Regions from separate parts of the Homo sapiens genome. Here region 1 is linked to region 2. The links come from fine-mapping of genetic effects on gene expression. A gene starts in region 2. The other region holds a variant in brackets. All regions are shown on one strand. Distances are between the middles of the regions. Region 1 overlaps CHCT1 (CHD1 helical C-terminal domain containing 1). Region 2 holds the start of APPBP2 (amyloid beta precursor protein binding protein 2).

Evidence for each region.
Region 1: its variant is fine-mapped to the expression of APPBP2 in gastroesophageal junction (GTEx, PIP 0.99).

Annotation. Positions count from the first base shown.
Region 1 is chr17:60,431,286-60,442,946 of GRCh38, reverse strand. CHCT1 (CHD1 helical C-terminal domain containing 1) reads right to left here. Exons shown (of 6, transcript NM_181707.3): 6 at 11,521-11,661. It also overlaps the pseudogene RPL12P38 and the pseudogene HMGN2P42. Among named protein-coding and RNA genes, the nearest start is that of CHCT1, 15 kb to the right of the region's middle. The variant G/A (reference allele first, on the strand shown) is at 5,745.
Region 2 is chr17:60,522,525-60,533,538 of GRCh38, reverse strand. It overlaps APPBP2 (amyloid beta precursor protein binding protein 2), which reads left to right and starts at 7,297. Exons shown (of 13, transcript NM_006380.5): 1 at 7,297-7,745. The coding sequence starts at 7,608. RefSeq lists a silencer at 7,468-7,607 and enhancers at 7,688-7,957, 7,678-8,386.

The DNA.
Region 1 (11,661 bases), 91 kb after region 2:
ACTGCATTAATGCAAAGGGATTTTTTAGTCTTTACAAAAGTATACCATTCTTTTAAGAATCCTCTCACTCTAAAGGCTGAAGATGAATGATGAGACCTGGTAAAGTTCTGCTGGAATAGTGAAGAAAAGCCTAGATTGGAGTTTCAGTTCCAGCTGTCTCTGAACTGGAAGATTCTGAGTTACGTCATTCCAGCCCTCTTTGTGTTTTATTTCCTCACATGAATAAGGGGGTAAAATCAGGTCTTTAAAAAACTTCACCATGAAACAGCATAAATCTGAAGGACTCAGAAACCAGTTGTAGGAAACGAAGCCATATTTTTAAAGATTAGGAAGAAAATATTGTAGACAAAATCCCACCATCACTTGGAATATAGTCAGCACCAGCTTCACTGCCTGCCACCTTCAGTGATACTGAATTTAAAAATGTTTCTTTTTACATCTCCATGACTGAACCTCTGAACATGCGATTTCGTCGTCCTTGTGGAATGCCATTTCCTGGATAGTGTTGCTCATCTGTCAAGCTCAAAGATCAAGGGAACCCTTCCCTTAAAGTTTGAGTTGCCACTTGGTATTAATGCAGCATTTTAGAGCTTTGTGAAAGCAATTACCATATGGCCATATAACTTACAGTGTTAAGACTCTTTCCAACTTGTAAACTTTGCTGATCTGTGTATTCAACATAGAGTTTATCCTGTGACAGATACTGTCCTGAGTGTGTTAGCAAACCACACTCAGTTACTTTAAGCGCACATTTCTATAGACAAATGCCCATTAGGATGGCTATTACAGAAAGTAAGTGTTGGCAAGGATGTGCAGAAATGAGAGCCCTTGTGCACTGTTGACAGGAATGTAAAATGCTGCATCTGCTGTGAAAAACTATCACCTGTGCTCAAAAAATTAAAAACAATTACTCTTATGATCCAGCAATTCAACTTCTGGGTATAGATCCAAAAGAATTGAAAGGGTCTTGAACAGATATTTATATACCCGTGTAGCAGCATTATTTGCAGTAGCCAAAAGCGAAAGCAACCTAAATGTCTTAACAATGCATGAACAGATAAATATGGCAGGCCAGGCGTGGTGGCTCATGTGTATTCCTAACTCTGGGAGGCAGGCCGACGCAGGAGGATTATTTGAGCCCAGGAGTTCGAGACCAGCCTGGGCAACAAGGTGAAATGCTGTCTCTACAAAAAATACAAAAAAATAATTAGCTGGGCGTGGTGGCACACACCTGTAGTCCCAGCTACTCAGGAGGCTGAGGTGGGAGGATTGCTTGAGCCCAGGAGGTTGAGGCTGAGTGAGCCGTGATCACACCACACTGCACTCCAGCCTGGGCAAGAGAATGAGAACCTGTTGATAAATACGGCATATACATACAGTGGGATATTATTCAGCCATAAGAATATACGAAATTCTGACATAAGCTATAATGTGGACAAACCTTGAAGACATTATGCTAAGTGAAATAAGACAGTCACAAAGAGTATGATACTATTAGATGATGCATCTAGAGTAGTCAAATTCATAGAAGCAGAAAGTAGGATAGTGATTGCCAGGAGCTGGGGATAGGGGAAAATGGGGAGTAGTTGCCTAATGCAGGGGTCCCCAACCCCCGGGGATCTGTGGCCTGTCAGGCACTGGGCCACGTGGCAGGAGGTGAGCAGTGGGTGGGTGAACGAGCAGAGCTTCTGTATTTACAGCCCATCCCCATCACTTGCCTGAGCTCCACCTCCTGTCAGATCAGTGGCAGCATTAGGTGAACCCTATTGTGAACTGCACGTGTGAGGGGTCTAGGTTATGCACTTCCTATGAGAATCTAATGCCTGATGATCTGTCACTGTCTCCCATCACCCCCAGATGGGACTGTCTAGTACAGGAAAACAAGCTCAGGGCTCCCACTGATTCTACATTATGGTGAGTTGTATAATTATTTCATTATATATTACAATGTAATAGTAATAGAAATAAAGTGCACAGTAAATGTAATATGCTTGAGGCCAGGCACAGTGGCTCACACCTGTAATCCCAGCACTCTAGAAGGCCAAGGCAGGCATATCACTTGAGCTCAGGAGTTCGAGACCTGAACATAGCAAAACCTCGTCTCTACCAAAAAATACAAAAAATTAGCTGGGTCTGGTGGTACATGCCTGTGGTCCCAGCTGCTCAGGAGGCTGAGGTGGGAGGGTTGCTTGAGCCTGGGAGGTTGAGGCTGCAGTGAGACGTGATTGTGCCACTGCACCCCAGCCCGGATGACACAGTGAGACCCTGTCTCAATTTTTTAAAAAAATTTAATGCATTTAAATCATCTCAAAAGCACCCCACCTCTCCCTGCTTCCGATCTGTGGAAAAACTGTCTTCCACAAAGCCAACCCCTGGTGACAAAAAGGTTGGGGACCACTGCACTAATGGATCTAGAGTTTGTGTTTTGTGTGATGCAAAAGTTCTGGAGATTGGTTTCACAACACTGTGAAAATTAATACTAGTGCATTTTACATATAAAATGGTTCAGACAGGGCTGGGCGCAGTGGCTCATGCCTGTAATCCCAGCACTCTGGGAGACTGAGGCGGGTTGATCACCTGAGATCAGGAGTTTGAGACCAGCCTGACCAACATGGTGAAACCCCATCTCTACTAAAAATACAAAAATTAGCCGGGTGTGGTGGCGGGCGCCTGTAGTCCCAGCTACTAGGGAGGCTGAGACAGGAGAATTGCTTGAACCCAGGATGCGGAGGTTGCAGTGAGCTGAGATTGTGCCACTGCACTCCAGCCTGGGTGACAGAGCAAGACTCCACCTAAAAAAAAAGAAAAAAAAAAAAAGATATATATATGTATTGTTCAGACAGTAAACTTTATGTGTATTTTATAACTATATATTATATATTTTATATATAATATATAGTTCAGACAATAAATTTTGTGTATTTTACAACTATATATATAATATATATTGTTCAGACAGTAAACTTTATGTGTATTTTACAATAATTTTTAAAAATCAGACTTCACTTTGCACAAGCAGTTAAATATGATGCATAAGTTTGAAAAAAATCTGTGAATGATCACTTCCAGAAAGTGCCTTGAAAAACCTCTAGTGTAATTTATTTTTGAATTAGAACTTTTGTGTAACAAGTGAAAGTTGATTTGCATTTAAATTCTTTCCAAGTACAGAATCAGGCTTTTTCATTCCTGCTGCTCTTTAAATAGTTTGAGTATTTTTCTTTCCTGTTACGTAATGACTGATTATTTCTCTCTATGAGCTAAGAATGACCCAGATGTTGCCTCCTGTTTCACTTAGCTATGAGGTGCGTGTTTCTGTTTTGTTTTTAGACAGGTTCTCACTGTTGCCCAGGCTGGTTTCAAACTCCTGGATTCAAGCAATCCTTCTGCCTCAGCCTCCTGAGTAGCTGGGATTACAGGCTTGAGCCACTGTGCCTGGCTCAAGAATAGTTATTTTTCATTTCTAAACGTTCTATTTTTTTTCAAGTCTGTATACTCTTTTCCTATCACATATTCTCATGCCTGTAATTCCAGCACTTTGGGAGGCCGAAGCAGGTGGATTGCTTGATGTCAGGAGTTTGAGACCAGCCTGGGCAACATGGCGAGAATCCGTGTCTACAAAAAAACATTTTTAAAGTTAGCCAGGCATGATGGTACATGCCTGTAGTCCCGGCTACTCAAGAGGCTGAGGCAGAAGGGTCACTTGAGCCCAGGAAATCGAGGCTGCAGTGAGCTATTATCATGTCACTGCACTTCAGGCTGGGTGACAGAGTGAGACCCTGTCTCAAAAAAAAAAAAAAAAAAAAAAAGGCTCGGCGCGGTGGATCACGTCTGTAATCCCAGCACTTTGGGAGACCGAGGCGGCCAGATCACGAGGTCAGGAGAGCGAAACCATCCTGGCTAACATGGCAAAACCCCGTCTCTACTAAAAATACAAAAAAATTAGCCAGGCATGGTGGCGGGCGCCTGTAGTCCCAGCTACTGGGGAGGCTGAGGCAGGAGAATGGCATGAACCCAGGAGGTGGAGCTTGCAGTGAGCCGAGATAGCACCACTGCACTCCAGCCTGGCGACAGAGCAAGACTCTGTCTCAAAAAAAAAAAAAAAAAAAAAAAAAGCAAATGTCTGTTTACAAAAACAAGAAAAATCAAAAAGACAGAGCCTTGTGTGTGGAGGAGTCAAAAAGCTTGGGCAGTCAGCATCTCAACTCAACTAAGTCAGCCCCTAAGCCCCTGTTTTCTTTTTCTTTCTTCTTCTTCTTGTTTTTTTTTTTTTTTTTTTTTGAGACAGAGTCTCGCTCCGTCACCCAGGCTACAGTGCAGTGGCACAATCTCGGGTCGCTGCAACCTCTGCCTCCTGGGTTCAAGCAATTCTCCTGCCTCAGCCTACTGAGTAGCTGGGATTACATGCACGCACCGCCAAGCCTGGCCAATTTTTGTATTTTTAGTACAGATGGGATTTTGCCGTGTTAGCTAGGCTGGTCTCGAACTACTGACCTCAAGTGATCCACCGACCTTGGTCTCCCAAAGTGCTGGGATTACACATCTGAGCCACCAAGCCTGGCCATAGCCTGTTTTCTTTGTAATGGGGAGAAGGAGTTTCCCTCACAAGTTTGACACAAAAATCCAGTGAGAATGGATGCAAAACTCTGCTATTTCTCTTCAGTTACATATATTTGTGATAATTATTATAAAGAGGAAACTTCGGGTGACTCCTGAGAGACTGGGGTGGGAGTGGGTCAGGCAGTAGTTAGTCACTACATTCGCGGTTAGGAGCCTCTTCCATTTAAAACTCGAAACCACCATCAGAGTGAACAGGCAACCTACAGAATGGGAGAAAATTTTTGCAACCTACTCATCTGACAAAGGGCTAATAGCCAGAATCTACAATGAACTCAAACAAATTTACAAGAAAAAAACAAACAACCCCATCAAAAAGTAGGCAAAGGATATGAACGGACACTTCTCAAAAGAAGACATTTATGCAGCCAAAAAACACATGAAAAAATGCTCATCATCACTGGCCATCAGAGAAATGCAAATCAAAACCACAATGAGATACCATCTCACACCAGTTAGAATGGCGATCATTAAAAAGTCAGGAAACAGCTGGGCACGGTGGCTCAAGCCTGTAATCCCAGCACTTTGGGAGGCCGAGGCGGGTGGATCACGAGGTCATGAGATTGAGACCATCCTGGCTAACACGGTGAAACCCCGTCTCTACTAAAAATACAAAAATTAGCCGGGCACCATTGGGCGCCTGTAGTCCCAGCTACTCTGGAGGCTGAGGCAGGAGAATGGCGTGAACCCGGGAGGCGGAGCTTGCAGTGAGCCAAGATTGCGCCACTGCACTCCAGCCTGGGTGACAGAGACTCCGTCTCAAAAAAAAAAAACAAAAAAAACTGAAAGTAAAACTTTAGGGAAAGTACCCTTTATTCTCTAAGGAAAAGGACCCTTCTCGAAGGCTCCGATAGTGAGGCACTTTCTCTAGGATGAGCCTCACCCCTAAGGCAGCATAGGCCAAGGTATGATTTGGGGATTTCCACCAAGGCTCCCCACTTCCCAATAGCCTCTCCAACAACCTGTTTCTGGTGTTCCCAAGTCCACCATTATACTTTTGGGTAGAGATACTTTTAAAAAATAAAAATTCTAGAAGAAGTAATACATTTTGGTTAGGCGCAGTGGCTAATGCCTGTAATCCCAGCACTTTGGGAGGCTGAGGTGGGCGGATCACCTGAGGTCAAGAGTTC[G/A]AGACCAGCCTGGACAACATGGTGAAACCCCATCTCTACTAAAAATACAAAAATTAGCTGGGCGTGGTGGCGGGCGCCTGTAATCCCAGCAACTCTGGAGATAGGGCAGGAGAATCGCTTGAACCCGGGAGGCAGAGGTTGTGGTGAGTGGAGATTGCACCACTACACTCCAACCTGGGTGACAGAGTGAGACTGTCTTAAAAAAAAAAAAGAAGAAGAAGAAGGAGAAGAAGTAATACATTTTAGTCTTGAGGGTTATTTCTATCTTGTGAGAAATGAGTGTGTGGGCCAAGAGTAGGTGAAACATATGTCGTTGGTATGTAGGAAGTGCGCTGGCCTGGGGGACCTCAGGTCTGAGTTGTCGTTCCAGTTCTGCCATTGACTTCCTGCACAACCTTGGAGAAGTCGCCTTTCTTCTTGGGCCTCTGTTTTCCCCTCTGAACGAGGAGGTGGTTGGTCAGAATTCTCTGTTTTGGGTTGGTTCATTCATTAAAAGTTTGCTAAGTACCTATTATATGTTGAATACTATTGTAATTGCTTTGGATACAGCAATGAACAGGACAGACAAAAATCTCTAACCCTGTGGAACTTACATTCTAAGGGAAGAAGACAGTTAATAAACAAGAAATACAATAATTGACCGGGTGTGGTGGCTCACGCCTGTAATCTCAGCACTTTGGTAGGCGGAGGCCAGCGGAGTTTGAGACCAGCCTGGACAACATGGTGAAACCCCGTCTCTACTGAAAATACAAAAAAATTAGCCAGGCTTGGTGGCGCGCTCCTGTAAGCCCAGCTACCTGGGAGGCTGAGGCAGGAGAATCGCTTGAACCCGGGAGGCGGAGGTTGCAGTGAGCCGAGACTGCGCCATTGCACTCCAGCCTGGGCGACAGAGCGAGATTCCGTCTAAGGAAAAAAGAAAGAAAGAAAGCTTCAAAACCAAGCCTCACTTGTTGTCCATTTTTGCCTTTATGCGTCCCGATTGTTCTCAAGGTTGATAAACGAACCCCTGGCTCCCTTCTCTCATCTTCATCTTTTGCACACGCTGGTTTGCACATGTTGGTTGAAAGAACAAGGCTGTAGTGTCTCACAATTCCTCTAGGTGGCAGTGCTGCCTTGACTACTGGGGATACTTCGTGTTTTTGGACTGTTCCCAAAACAGCCACATTTCTGAAATCTCTTAGGAGTAGAAAACATTGGAAAGCCCATAGTCATCATGGACACCCTCCAGCCCGGCTTCCCTTCTCTCTGAAATCCTCCCTGCTTTGACAAAACTGTCAGGGTCTAGCCAAGCCAGGCTGGCCCCAGGCCTATGCCTTGGCCGTCTCATCTTGCCACTTCCAGGAGGCGATGACTCTAAGGAGGAAAGAAATGGCGCTTCCTCCCCGCTTCCCCCATTCATGCTTCCCTGAACTCCTTCTTCGAGACTAGATTGATATTCATTTTAGCCTTGTCAGTCTATGACGATACTTACTTCTGAACACAAATCGAGGGAGGGAGGGAGAAGAGTCACACACATCTGCCCTGGCCTCTCCTGCTCCAGGGCAGCCCTGCACCCTATATGCTGCTGCCTCAGGCAGAGCCCTGGAAAATATGTCATTTGTGTTTTTGGGGAATGTTTGGACCTACTTACCCTCCTGGAAATGATAAAAGTTCACAAAATTTGGAGGAAGAAGAGGCGAGAACGATCCCCGAACCGAGCAAAGCCCGCGCGCCGCTGCATCCTGCGCCCAGTGCCTACGTCTCAATGCCATCGTCGCCGCCACCATGACCAAGAGAAAGGCTGAAGGGGATGCTAAAGGAGATAAAGCCAAGACGAAGGACGAACCACAGAAAAGATCCGCGAGGTTGTCTGCTAAACCTGCTTTTCCAAAGCCGGAGCCCAAGCCTAAAATGGCCCCTGCAAAGAAGGGAGAGAAGGTACCCAAAGGGAAAAAGGGAAAAGCTGATGCTGGCAAGGAGGGAATAGCCCTGCAGAAAATGAAGATGCCAAAACAGATCAGGCACAGAAAGCTGAAGGTGCTGGAGATGCCAAGTGAAGTGTGTGCATTTTTGATAACTGTGTACATCTGGTGACTATACAGTTTGAAATACTATTTTTTATCAAGATTTATAAAAATGCAGAATTTTATTTTACTTTTTTTTTTTAAGCTACGTTGTTAGCACACAGAACACTTCATTGTTGTTTTTAGGGGAAGGGGCATACGTCACTAATAGAATGACTCCGAAGCTGGATTGATATGGGGAAAACACCTTTCCCTTCTAGTTTTTAGAGACTTCCTTTTGGCTCCCAGGAGGAGGGATTCCCTGGCTTTGATACACATGGCCACCTTGGCACAAAAGGCTTGCGGTATGGAAAAACAAATTTATTTTTATGTCCTCTTCTCCCTTTCCATCTTTCAGCATAGACTTAACTCCCTTAAGCCCAGACGTCTGTTGGGACCTGACCCCTAGTCATTGGTTACCAGTGTCAGGCAATCTGGACTTTCCAGATGCCACTGAGATGGCACCTGTCAAAAGAGCAGTGGTTCCATTTCTAGATTGTGAATCTTCAGATAAATTCTGCCATTTTCATTTCACTTCCTGAAAGTCAAGGTTGGTTTGTGAAAAGTTAACAGCATGCTGAATGTGAAATATCAACCCTCACTCTAAACTTTCCCTGTTCAGAGCATCAGATGAAGACTTCATTGGGTTTTATACTGGCTTTCTTTTTGGTAGTCCACTGAAGAATCCAGGGAGTTTGAAAGTTGTTGTATACTGTTAATGATTGTCTGCCCATGTCCTGCCTGAAATACCATGACTGTTTATGGAAAGTATCTTTAATAAAGCTGGATACAGTTTGGCTTGGAAAAAAAAAGTTCACAAAATTTGCAGCCTGACAATGCAATAGAAAAAGAAAAACTCGCTCTTGGCTTTCGGCTTGGAGGAGGCCAAGGTGCAACTTTCTTCGGTTGTCCCGAATCCGGGTTCATCTGACACCAGCCGCCTCCACCATGCCGCCAAAGTTCGACCCCAACGAGATCAAAGTCATATACCTGAGGTGCACCGGAGATGCCACTTCTGCCCTGGCCCCCAAGATCGGCCCCCTGGGTCTGTCTCCAAAAAACGTTGGTGGTGACATTGCCAAGGCAACGGGTGACTGGAAGGGCCTGAGGATTACAGTGAAACTGACCATTCAGAACAGACAGGCCCAGATTGAGGTGGTGCCTTCTGCCTCTGCCCTGATCATCAAAGCCCTCAAGGAACCACCAGAGACAGAAAGAAACAGAAAAACATTAAACACAGTGGGAATATCACTTTTGATGAGATCGTCAACCTTGCTCGACAGATGGAGCACCGATCCTTAGCCAGAGAACTCTCTGGAACCATTAAAGAGATCCTGGGGACTGCCCAGTCTCTGTGGGTTGTAATGTTGATGGCCGCCACCCTCATGACATCATAGATGACATCAACAGTGGTGCTGTGGAATGCCCAGCTAGTTAAGCACAAAGGAAAATATTTCAATAAAGGATCATTTGACAACTAGTGAAAAAAAAAGAAAAAGAAAAAGAAAAACTCATTTTCTGGGGAGAAATTCAAGCTGGCAGCAGAAATTGGCATAAGTAAGGAGGAGCCAAATGCTAATCCCCAAGACAATGGGGAAAATGTCTCCAGGGCATGTCAGAGACCTTCTTGGAAGCCCCTCCCATCACAGGCCCAGAGGTCTAGAAGGGAAAAAATGTTTTCCTGGGCCAGGTCCAGGGCTCACCTGCTGTGTGCAGGCTCAGGATTTGGTGCCCTGCATCCCAGCTGCTCCAGCATGGCTAGAAGGGTACAGCTTGGGCCATAGATTCAGAAGGTGCAAGCCACAAACTTTGGCAGCTTCCACATGGTGTTGAGCCTGTGGATGCACAGAAGTCAAGAATTGAGGTTTGGGAACCTCCACTTAGATTTCAGAGGATGAATGGAAATGCTTGAATGTCCAGGCAGAGGTATGCTGTAGGGGTGGAGCCCTCATGGAGAACCTTTCCTAGGGCAGTATGGAAGGAAAATGTAAGGTAGGAGACTCCACACAGAGTTCCCACTGGGGCACTGCCTGGTGGAGCTGTCAGATGAGGCCCACTGCCCTCCAGACCCCAGAATGGTAGATCCACCAACAGCTCACCATGTGCCTGGAAAAGCTGCAGACACTCAATGCCTGTGAAAGCAGCCAGGAGTGGGGCTGTATCCTGCAAAGCCACAGGGCTGGAGCTGCCCAAGACCATGGGAACCTATCTGTTGCATCAGCATGACCTCAGTGTGAGACATGGAGTCAAAAGAGATCATTTTGGAACTTTAATATTTGACTGCCCTGTTGGATTTTGGACTTGTATGGGACCTGTAGTCTCTTCATTTTGCCCAATTTCTCCCGTTTGGAATGGGTGTATTTACCCAATGCCTGCAACCCCATTGTGTCTAGGAAGTTACTAACTTGGCTTTTGATTTTACAGGTTCATAGGCGGAAGGGACTTGCCTTGTCTCAGATGAGATGTTGGACTTGAACTTTTGGGTTAATGCTGAAATGAATTAAAACTTTGGGGAACTGTTGTGAACGCATGATTGGTTTTAAAATGTGAGGATATGAGATTTGGGAAGGGCCGGGGCGGTATGGTATGGTTTGGCTCTGTGTCCCCACCCAAATCTCACCTCTAATTGTAATAATACCCACATGTTGTGGGAGGGACCAAGTGGGAGGTAACTGAATCATGAGGGTGGGTTTTTTTCCATGCTGTTCTCATAAGTCTCATGAGATCTCATGGTTTTATAAAGGGGAGTTCTCCTGTACACACTCTCTTGCCTGCTGCCATGTAAGATGTGACTTTGCTCCTCATTTGCCTTCTGCCATGACTGTGAGGCCTCCCCAGCCACGTGGAACTGAGTCAATTAAACCTCTTTCCTTTATAAATTACCCAGTCTCAGGTATGTCTTTATTAGCAGTGCGAGAAAAGACTGACACATGGGCTCAAGCGATTCTCCCACCTTAGCCTCCCAAATAGCTGGGACTACAGGTGTGCGTCACTATGAACAGCTAATTTTTTTGTAGAGATGGGGTTTTCCCATATCGCCCTGGCTAGTCTGGAACTCCTGAGCTCAAACAAACCTCCACCTCAGCCTCCCAGAGTGCTGGGATTACAGGCATGAGGCACCATGCCCGGACTTAAAGTGTTTTAAACAACAAGTAGAACATGACCCAGGACAAACAAAACACATCAGTAGCCTTACTTTAGTGTGCAGGCTGTGGATTTGTGACTGATGGCTCGAGCCACCATGTTAGCTAAGACCATCGGTGTTGTTTCCTCTTTGGTCTCCTGCCTCTAGCCTCGCTCACTTCCATGCACTTTGCTCACAGTCACCAGAGCATCTCCCCAATACCGTAGTGACACCCATTCATTCCACTACTTGACACTTCCCTTACCACTGCCCATCCCAAGCTACCCACAAAATGAAGTCCAGACAATGCAGGCGGGCTGCCAGGCTTGCCATTCTCTGACCCCAGGCTCCCTCCCTCCCCACCTGTGTGCTCCACTGGCAAACACCCAGCTCCTTTGTTAACTCCCCGGAGGCCTGCCCCAGTCACCTGTATTTACCCTGCTGTCGTGTCTTTTCTATGTCTGTCTGCTCCACTAGACTGTGATGGTCCTTGACAAAGTGACCACATCTTATTCATCTGTGCATATGTGGGGCACCTGCCACTTAGAAGGTGGCTGGCAAATATCTTTTAAACAAATTTAAAATGTACGAATGATGACTGTTGGTCAAGTAAGGTAGAACTGTCATAAGAATGTTTATTTCCCACCTCATTTATTCCTAATTAAGACCTGAGAATCTTTTTGATAAGGACAATTCTTTTCCCTTTTTGGTCTCCATTCCCCGTGCTCTGAGAGCCAGGACAAGCGGGCCC
Region 2 (11,014 bases):
TGCTTCCCTATCATTCTCCCATTTTAAATAAGCATCCCTTGATGTGGAAATATATCTACATTTTAGACGGAGTCTCACTCTGGAGTCTCCCAGGCTGGATGGCAGTGGCACCATCTTGGCTCACTGCAACCTCTGCCTCCCAGGTTCAAGCAATTCTCCTGTCTCAGCCTCCCAAGTAGCTAGGATTACAGGCATAAGCCACTGCACCTGGCCCAAAAAAAGATTTAAATTTTTAATTTTTGTGGGTACATAGTATATATATTTTTATGGGATACATGAGATGTTTTGATACAGGCATGCAGTGTGAAACAATCACATCATGGAGAATGGGGTATTCATCTCCTCAAGCATTTATCCTTTGTGTTACAAACAATCCAATTACGATCTTCTGGTTATTTAAAAACGTACAATTGTTATTATTAACTACAGTCACCCTGTTGTGCTATCAAATAGTAGGCTTTATTCATTCTTTCTAGTTTTTGGTAGCCTTTAACCATCCCCATCTCCTTCCCAACCCCCGACTACCCTTCCCAGCCTCTGGTAACTATCCTTCTACACTCTGTGACCATGAGTTCAATTGTTTTGATTTTTAGATCCGACAAATAAGTGAGAACATGTAATGTTTGTACTTCTGTGCCTGGCTTATTTCAGTTAACACTAATGATTTCCTGTTCCATCCATGTTGCTGAAAATGACAGGATCTTTTTTTTTTTTTTTGAGATGGAGTCTTGCTCTGTCACCAGGCTGGAGCGCAGTGGCGCAATCTCAGCTCACTGCAACCGCTGCCTCCCACGTTCAAGTGATTCTCCTGCCTCAGCCTCCCAAATAGCTGGGACTAGAGGCGTGCACCACCATGCCCAGCTAATTTTTGTATTTTTAGTAGAGACAGGGTTTCACCATGTTGGCCAGGATGGTCTTGATCTCTTGACCTTGTGATCCGCCCACCTCGGCTTCCCAAAGTGCTGGGATTACAGGTGGGAGCCACTGCGCCTGGCCTGGATCTTGTTTGTTTTAAGGCTAAATAGTACTCTATTGTGTATATGTAACACATTTTCTTTATCCATTCATTTGTTGATGAACACTTAGGTTGCTTCTAAATCTTAGCTATTGTGAATAGTGCTGCAACAAACATTGGAGTGCAGGTATCTCTTTGAAATACTGATTTCCGTTTTTTTGGGTCTATACCCAGCAATGGGATTGCTGGATCACATGGTAGCTCTAGTTCTAGTTTTCTGAGGAACCTCCAAACCATTCTCCATAGTGGTTGTACTAATTTACATTCCCACCAACAGTGTATGAGGGTTCCCTTTTCTCTACATCCTTGCCAACATTTGTTATTGTCTGTCTTTTGCATAGAAGCCATTTTAACTGGAGTGAGATGATATCCCATTGACTACTCCTGCTCTTTTTTTGGTTTCCATTGGCATGGAATATCTTTTTCCAACCCTTTATTTTTAGTTTATGTGTGTCTTTATAGGTGTAGTGTGTTTCTTATAGGCAACATATCAATGGGTCTTGTTTTTTCACCCATTCGGCCACTCTGTGTCTTTTTATTGAAGAGTTTAGTCCATCTACATTTGATATTACCATTGATAAGAACTTATTCTTGCCAGAAGCGGTGGCTCACACCTGTAATCCCAGCACTTTGGGAGGTTGAGATGGGTGGATCATGAGGTCAGGAGTTCGAGACCGGCCTGGCCAACATGGTGAAACCCCGTCTCTACTAAAAATACAAAATTAGCTGGGCTTGGTGGCGCATGGCTGTAATCCCAGCTATTCAGGAGGCTGAGGCAGGAGAATCGCTTGAACTCAGGAGGCAAAGGTTGCAGTGAGCTGAGACTGTGCCACTGTACTCCAGCCTGGACAACAAGAGCGAAACTCTGTCTCAAAAAAAAAAAAAAAAGAACTTATTCCTGTCATTTTATTTGTTTTCTAATTGTTCTGTGGTCTTGTTTCCTTCCTGTGTTTTCCTCTAGTGAAAGTGATTTTCTCTGATATTATTTAGTTTCCTGCCTTTTATTTTTTGTGTATCCATTGTATGTTTTTTGGTTTTAGGCTAACATGAGGCTTGCAAATACTATCTTATGACCCATTATTATAACCTGATAACAATTTAACACTATTTACATAAACAAACAAGCAAAAAAAAAAAAACTAACAAAAACTCTATGTCTTAACTTCATCTCTGTTTTTTAACTTTTTGCTATTTCTATTTATATCTTATATAGTCTATGTCTTGAAAAGTTGTCACAGTTATTATTTTTGATTGGTTCATCATTTAGTCTTTCTACTTAGAATAAGTAGTTTCTACACCATGGTTATAGTGTTATAATGTTCTCTATTTTTCTGTTTATGTCCTATTACCAGTGATTTTGTACCTTCAGATGATTTATTGCTCATTAATGTCTTTTTCTTTCTCATTGAAGTATTCCCTTTAGCATTTCTTGAAGGACAGGTCTGGTGTTGAAATTCCTCAGCTTTTGTCAGGGAAACCTTTATTTATCCTTGATCTTTGGGAGTTTGATTATTGAATGCTTTGAGGTAGTCTTCTTCGGGTTAAATCTGTTTGGTGTTCTATAACCTTCTTGGACTTGGATATTGGTATCTTTCTCTAAGTTTGAGGAGTTCTCAGTTATTATCCCTTTGAATAAACTTTCTACATCAATCTCTTTTTCTACCTCCTCTGTAAGGTCAATAACTCTTAGATTTGCCCTTTTTAGGCTATTTTCTAGATCCTGTAGGCATGCTTCATTATTTTTTATTCCTTTTTCTTTTGTCTCCCTGATCATGTATTTTCAAATAGCCTGTCTTCAAGCTCACTAATTCTTTCTTCTGCTTGAATAATTCTGCTACTAAAAGACTCGAGGCTGGGTGTGGTGGCTCACACCTGTAATCCCAGAACTTTGAGAGGCTGAAGCAGATAGATCACTTGAGCCCAGGAGTTCAAGACCAGCCTGGGCAACATAGCAAAACTCTATCTCTACAAAAAATACAAGCCGAGCATGGTGGTACACACCTGTAGTCTCAGCTTCTCAGGGGACTGAGGCAGGAAGACTGCTTGAGCCTGTGAGGCTGAGGCTGTAGTGAGCTGATATCCTGCCACTGCACTCCAGCCTCAGTAACAGAGTATGGCCTTACCTCAAAAAAAAAAAAAACAAACAAAAAAAGATTCTGATGCTTTCTTCAGTATGCTAATTACATTTTTCAGCTCCAGAATTTCTGCTTCTTTTTAATTATTTCGATTTATTTGTTAAGTTTATCTGATAGAATTCTGAATTCCTTCTTTCCATTATCTTGAATTTCTTTGAGTTTCTTCAACATGGCTATTTTGAATTCTGTCTGAAAGGTCTCATATGTCTGTTTCTCTAGGACTGGTCTCTGGTGGTTTCTTTAGTTCATTTGGTGAGGTCATGTTTTCCTGGATGGTGCTGATGCTATAGATATTCTTCACTCTCTGGGCATTGAAGAGTTGGATATTATCAGTCTCCAGTGTCTGGGCTTGTTTGTACTTGTCCTTCTTGGGAAGGCTTTCCAGGTATTTCAAAGGACTTCACTACTGTGATCTAAGCTGTATCTGCTTTAGGGGGCACCTCAAGCCTAGTAACGCTGTGGTTCTTGCTGACTTGTAGAGGTACCACCTTGGTGTTCATGGGTAAGATCCAAGGGAATTCCCTGGATTACCAGGCAGAAACTCTTGTTCTCTTCCCTTACATTCTTTAAACACAAACAGTCTCTCTCTCTGTGCTGAGCTGCCTGGAGCTGGGGGAGGGATTACCCCGAACCCAATAACACTGTAGTTCTCTGAAGTTCTTGCAGACTCTTAGGGGTACCACCTTGATGGTCAAGGACAGCATCTGGGAGAAATTCTCTGGATTACCAGGCAAAGACTCTTGTTCTCTTACCTTACTTTCTCCCAAACAAATGGAATTTCTCTCTCTGTTCTGAGCCACATAAAGCTGGGAGTGGAGTGACAGAAGTACCTCTGTGGCCACCCCCACTATGACTGGACTGGGTTAGAGATGAAGCCAGCATAGCATTGGGTCTCACCCAAGACCTGCTGTAACCACTCCCTGGCTACTGCTTATGTTCACTCAAGGCCCTGGGGCTCTACAATTAGCAGATGGCAAAGCCATCCAGGCGTGTGTCCTTCCCTTCAGGGTGGCGAGTTCCCCCAGGCCCTGGGTAGGTCCAGATGTACAGTCCAGGAGTCAGAGACTAGAGTAAAAAATCTCAGAAGTCTACCTGGTGTTATACTGTATTGCAGCTGAGCTGGCTCTCAAACCGTAAGACACAGTCCTTCCTACTCTTCCCTTTCCTTCCCAAAGGGAGACTAGCCTCACTCTGTAACCACCATCACCACAGGCCACAGGGAGTACTGCCAGACTTCCACGGATGTTTCCTTAAGGCCCACGGCCTCTCAAGTCAGTGTGTGGTGAATGCTGTCTGGGCAGAGACTCAACCGTCAGGGCAGAAGGCTCTACTCTGGACCAGGGCAGGTCAGAAATGCCATTTAGGAGTCAAGTCCTGGAATCAGGAACCCCAAGGGCCCACTTGGTGCTCTACCCCTCTGTGGCCATGCTGGCATCTGAAGCCAGCAAGTCTCAGAGGTTCACCCAAGGTCCTCAACATAGTATCTGGGTATATCTGCTGGTCATTTAGGGCCCAAGGGCTCTTCAGTTAGAAGGTGATGAATACTGCCAGGACTAAGTCCTTCTCAGGGGACTTATCCTTTCTGGCAGTTTATCTGCTCTTGGTCACGACCTCCTAGTCCATCATACACATCTGAATAACTTTCAATCTGAAAGCAGTGAAGAAGGGATCAAGAGGCCCTTCCATCCAGAGTCCCCTTTGTGACTATATACATTTTTTAATGTCTAACTCAGTCATATGGTTTTGCTCTGTGTCCCCACCCAAATCTCATCTTGAATTGTACTCTGATAATTCCCACGTGTTGTGGGAGGGACCCAGTGGGAGATCACTGAATCATGGGGGTGGTTTCTCCCACGCTGTTCTTGTGGTAGTCTCATGAGATCTGATGGTTTTATAAGGAGAAACTCCTTTCGGTTGTCTCTTTTTGCCTGCTGCCATCCACATTAAGATGTGACTTGCTCCTCCTTGCCTTCCACCATGATTGTGAGGCCTCCTCAGCCATGTGGAACTGTAAACCCAATAAACCTCTTTCTTTTATAAATTGCCCAGTCTCAGCTATGTCTTTATTAGCAGTGTGTAAACGGACTAATACACTCAGCATCTAAGGTCCATAAAGCAATCAATATGTGTGTCTGACACACCTTTACCTGTTTACAGGAGCTTAATACGGGTCCTGATTTAGCCAAAATGTCCAAGAACATGTGCATTCAATGTTAGGGGATTCATGGATCCCTTTAGGTAGGATTGCTGGATAAAATACAGGTGTCCAGTTAAATGTGAGTTTCAGATGAACAACAAAGTTTTTTGTTGTTGTTGTTTTCTGAGACAGGGTCTCATTCTGCCACCCAGGCTGGAGTGCAGTGGCATGATCATGGCTCACTCAACATTCTGGGCTCAAGTAATCCTCCTGCCTCAGCCTCCTGAGTAGCTAGGACTACAGGTGCACACCACCACATGTGGCTATTTTTTTTTTGTAGAGATGGGGTCTTGCTATGTTGCCCAGGCTGGTCACAAATAAGTTTTTAGTATAAATATGTCCCCTGCAATATTTGCAGAGATAATAATTATTCTTTTATGTGGGGCAGGGATCCTGATCTTCAAAAGCGCCAGTGTCTAAGAAGTGATGAAGGATTTGCTGAATGAACTGATACACTTGAGTGGCTCCGAAGGCATGAGCAAAACTATTGCACAGAACATACTTACATTTCAAAACCATTTGTTGTTTATCTGACATTAAGATGTGACTGGGCACTTGTAATTTTTTTTTTCTTTTTTTTGAGACGGAGTCTCGCTCTGTTGCCCAGGCTGGAGTGCAGTGGCGCGATCCTGGCTCACTGCAAGCTCCGCCTCCCGGGTTCACGCCATTCTCCTGCCTCAGCCTCCCGAGTAGCTGGGACTACAGGCGCCCGCCACCACGGGCTAATTTTTTGTATTTTTAGTAAAGACGGGGTTTCACCGTGTTAGCCAGGATGGTCTCGATCTCCTGACCTCGTGATCCACCCGCCTCGGCCTCCCAAGTGCTGAGATTACAGGTGTGAGCCACCGCGCCCAGCCTTGTAGTTTTTTACTTGCTAAACTGGCAATCTGATCTTGAGGCCATCCACAGCTTTCCTAGGTTCACAGTATAGAGTAAGAATTTATATAGACTGAAGAAGATTAAGAGTGTTTATTTTTTGTGGAATTATTTAACCACTTAACACTGAAGTACCAGGTGAAGGGTAAATTGAAATAACTCTTTCCACTTCTTTTAGCTCTAAATATCAATCAGGACATTATTATTATGGCTGTTTTCTGGACTTACATCGTTATAGAGTGACTATGAGTTTGATAGTGTCACCAACAATTATGGCCAATAATTTCCATGGTAAATTCCTAGAACAGAAAGATGTTGCATCAAATTCTTGAAATCGCAGACTTAGGAAATTAAGTTACATAAACAGCAGATGTTCAGGCTGAGGAAGGAAAGAAGCTGAAACAAGTACTCCCAATTATTCAACAATCCCTTGAAGCCGCCACTGTAACTCTGGGAATTGAAATACCATTAAGTCCTATCACGGCCACCACTTAGCCTTTTTTCTCTTACTATTATTTGTAATTCCATAATCAAGCTAGTTTTCCTACGAAGTTCTGGGGCAGGAGTTTTCTTTTTTCGGAAATTTCATTTGGATAAAGAAACATGGTCAAAAAGTTACAACGGTGCAAATGGTTATACAAAGAAAAACAAGTCTCTCTTCTATCGTTACCCCTAGTTCCTGGACCGCGGGTTCTTAACTTGGGTTAGGAACTGCAGTCTAAGGGTTTCTAGAGTAATGTGAATTTTCTCAATGCATAATTTTCAATGTACAGATAATTTTGCTCGTTTGTGGGGAGAGGATCCAAACTTTTACCTGAGCCTCAAAAGGGTCCGTGATGCAGAGAACCTGCTGAAGTAACCGATGGCCCCGAGTGACTCGGAACAGGGGGCGCAGATATCCTGTAATAATTTGTCCCCGTGTGAAAAGTCTACCCCTATCCACTCCACTCCACTCCACTCCGGGGCCGCTTGGAAGGGACGCTCTCCGTGGGAGGCATCCAGCTCTTCCTAAGTTTTCCGCCTGCCGCATTCCTCCCCTCCGGCGCGCCGGCGTGCGCTTACGTCATGACGCCGCACACGCAGCCCCGCCCCTGCAGAGATCAGCGCTGGGACGGAACCCGGGTTCCTCTCGAACCGGGATTGTGACGCTTTTGGCCTGGCTGGCCGCTGTTTTCTGTCCCACTTTTTACTCGGGCCTGCGTCCGCTGCCGCCGTCCCTCAGTTTGCCCCCGGAGGAGGCAGGGCGGCCGTGCCTTCTGCCGTGCGCCCGCGTGGCTGCCACCGCCCCTCCGAATCCTCCGGGGCCGCAGAGGGGTTCGCTACGGAGGGAGGTGGGGGCCTTCGGGAGGAGGAGGCGGAGGAGGCGGAGGAGGAGGGAAGGAAGATGGCGGCCGTGGAACTAGAGTGGATCCCAGAGACTCTCTATAACACCGCCATCTCCGCTGTCGTGGACAACTACATCCGCTCCCGCCGAGACATCCGCTCCTTGCCCGAGAACATCCAGTTTGATGTTTACTACAAGGTATGCGCCGTGGGCCTCCTCTCTGCTCTCCTCCAGCAACCCCGGGGGCCGCACCCCCTTCCACGTCTGCGAACCCCCGCAGTTAACCCCTCACCCCTTCCGGCAGACTTGCCTCCCGAAACGTCTGGTGCGGTGTCTGCATTGCCAGTGGAGAAGCACCCCATCTCCCTATGCCCTGTCTCTTAAGCTTTGGGGCCTTGAAGTAATCTTGGGGAGTCTTGCTCCCTGTTGGTGTTCCCTTCTACACAGTGGCCCTCTTGGGTAGGCCTTTTGCGTGGACTTACTCTATCGCGCCCCTGTCCCACCTAGTCCTTTCCTTCTAGCCCGTATCTTCAGGATATTTTCCATCCTCTCCTTCCAATTAAGTGTCAGCATCAGCTGGACTTTTTTCCGTGCTCCTCCCCCCACCCATTCCTACTTTCTCATCTCGCCGCCTTCCTTCCCCGAGTGTTTTGGTGTTTTTGCTTCGTGTTCCTTCGTTTCTCCTTTCTTTTCCCAATTGGGAAGGAGTTAGGGATTATTGGAAATAATCTGTGTGTTTTATTTGCATATTCTTTAAAGCTTTGATTTTTTTGTGGGAGAGGAGGGGCTCTATACTTGAATTAGGGATTTTGTGAAAATGGGAGTGCTGATCAACTGTTTGAAGAGGACAGGGAGAGATCTTTACTGAAAGAAAAAAACACTTTAGATTATGTTCCTGTGTTTGAAAGTTGCAATCTTGCAGCATTCTTAAATCACTCCCCCTCAAAAATCTGAACAGCAAGTCTCCCAAGCCACTCTCCAAGGAGTTTCAAGGGTAAGTGTCCTTAGATGTGGACTATTTTTGCAGTGTTTTCAGAGTGTGGAGAACTTTATGGACTCAGAGCCTGCCCTTTTCTCTCCCCCACATTTGAATGTGAACACTGGATTTATTATTCAGTCTTCCTTGTCTTGAATCCGCGTCGATAACTCCTAGTGTCCAGTAGCCACCCATGCAAAATGTGACTAAAAGTAGAATGTAATTTATTTTTTAGACCTTAAATACTTCCTCTTGATCTGTAAGTTGGCTGGAACAGTGTAAACTGATATTTTAACAGATGTTTATGTTCTTACGTATGTACAGTGTTTTGTGGCAGTTGTTTTATTGGGAAGATTGCCTGCTTTCTCCACCCCTAGATTTTTTTTTTTTTTTTTTTTTTTTTTTCAGAATTAGCAGTTGATGGGCTGCGTTCTACTAAATCCAGCTGCTTTGCACCAATTCTAACAATTAAAGTGGGGTTTCCCCCCTAAATATTTGGAGAAGATTCATTTAGGTCATGCGTATTATTATTTTGGATTTCGAGAAAAAGCTCCCTTTTTTCCTAATCCCTTTGATACATTGATTTACTTTTGTGTATTCTAAGGAAATTTTGTTCATTTAAGATACATTCCTCCCCAGGAAGGACAAATTAGATTTGTCTTTCTCAGCCTGGGAAACTGCAGCTTTGTGTGTGCTCTCTGTCCATTTTATTAAATCATGTGTAATCTTGTACCTCATATGTAATCTCTCAGAGGAAATCATTGGGAATGTAATCCAAGTGTATTTACTAGTTGAATTCGTTCAAAATACTTGAATATCTTTTAGTAACTTTCACTTCTAATTGAAGCTTTTCATTTGAAGATTATTAGTATGAATAGATGGTGCTTTTGTTAGAATTTCTGTTTCACATAGTTCACACAGTTTTAATATTGCTCCTTTTTGGTACACTTTTACTTCTTAATAGTTGTATGCTTATTGGGAGTATGGCACTGTGCTAAGATGAGGGAAGTGTTAAACATGTGCCTGTAACTATGTTGTGCTTTTATGTGTTATTTTGTTTAATCTTCAGAATTAAACTGTGAAGTAGAGTACAGTATAACCTTGCTTTATTGGTGAGAAAGTTAAGTAATTTAATTAAGGTCTCAAACCTGATATTTAGTTCCTGAGTTCCTTGCTCTTTTACTTAGATATCTATCTTAAGATAGTAGATTATTTTAATGAAAGATATTATAACACTAATTTTTTTATTAGCTTCTATGGAAGTGGAGTGAAAGTCAGTCCCAGGACTCTATTCTAATCTTTAATGGAGATGTAAGAAGAAATTATTCTTTTTATTAAAATTTAAAAAAAATAGAGATGGGGTCTCGCTGTTTTGCCCAAGCTGGTCTTGAACTCCTGGGCTCAAGCTATCCTCCTGCCTCAGCCTACTGAGTAGCTGAGACTACAGGCATATGCCACCGCACCTGACTTTTCTTCCTTTTAAACACTATTAGCATATACATATAAGAAACTTTTTTTGTGGAGACAGGATCTTGCTCTGTTGCCCAGGCTGGAGTGCAGTTGTGATCATAGCTCACCGCAACCTTGAACCCCTGGGCTTAAGCAGTCTTTCCATCTCAGCCTCCTGAGTAGCTGGAACTACAGGTGTATGCCACCCATGCCTAGCTAATTTTTTTTTTTTTAATTTTTAGTATAGATGAGGTCTTGATATATTGCCCAGGCTGGAAAAACTTTTTAAAGCAATATAACTGCACACATAAATATAAGATACTCACCCCCTGCCCAACTTGTGAAAATTTTAGGAGGCTTACTGTTTCCAATTTCCAATTTTCTGCACTTTAAAGCCAAGGAGAAACTCATAATTACATCTCTCTTGCAGTCCAAATTTCCATCAGTAGGCATAGTCATAGACAAAATTGGAGTATTTGTGGAATCAAATTTCCCCATTCTGCTTGTTTGGTGTACTACAGTATGACTGTGTTAATTTTTGTAATAGCTTCAGATAAAGGCACAATCGTAAAGCATTAGGAGATGGGGTTATGGAATGAATGGAAGGTAAAGAAGCAGGAATGTTGACTGCTGTATAAGCAGGGAAGGGAGAGCATAGAAAGGGTAAAATATGAAATGTTTTTTCTTTTTTTTAAAAAAAAAAAAGAATGGAAGACACTAGAATATATTTGTTGGCTGAGTGGCAGAAACCAAGAGAATGAGGTTGAGTATCCAAGTGTGGTGGGAAATAAGTTACGGAGCAAAGTCCCTGAGCAGGAACATGAGTTGATGAGTCTTGCCTGTTTTTGGTCTTTCCTCCTTCACCGTGCATAAATTAAGGTATTATCCTTATATTGGAGTTGGGGAAAGAACTCTTCTTCTAAGATCAGAACAAAAGAATTAAAGATGTAAAGGCGCAGGGCTCACACTCATAATTCCAACACTTTGGGAAGCTGAAGCAGAAGGATCGCTTGAGCACAGGAGTTCGAGACCAGCCTAGGCA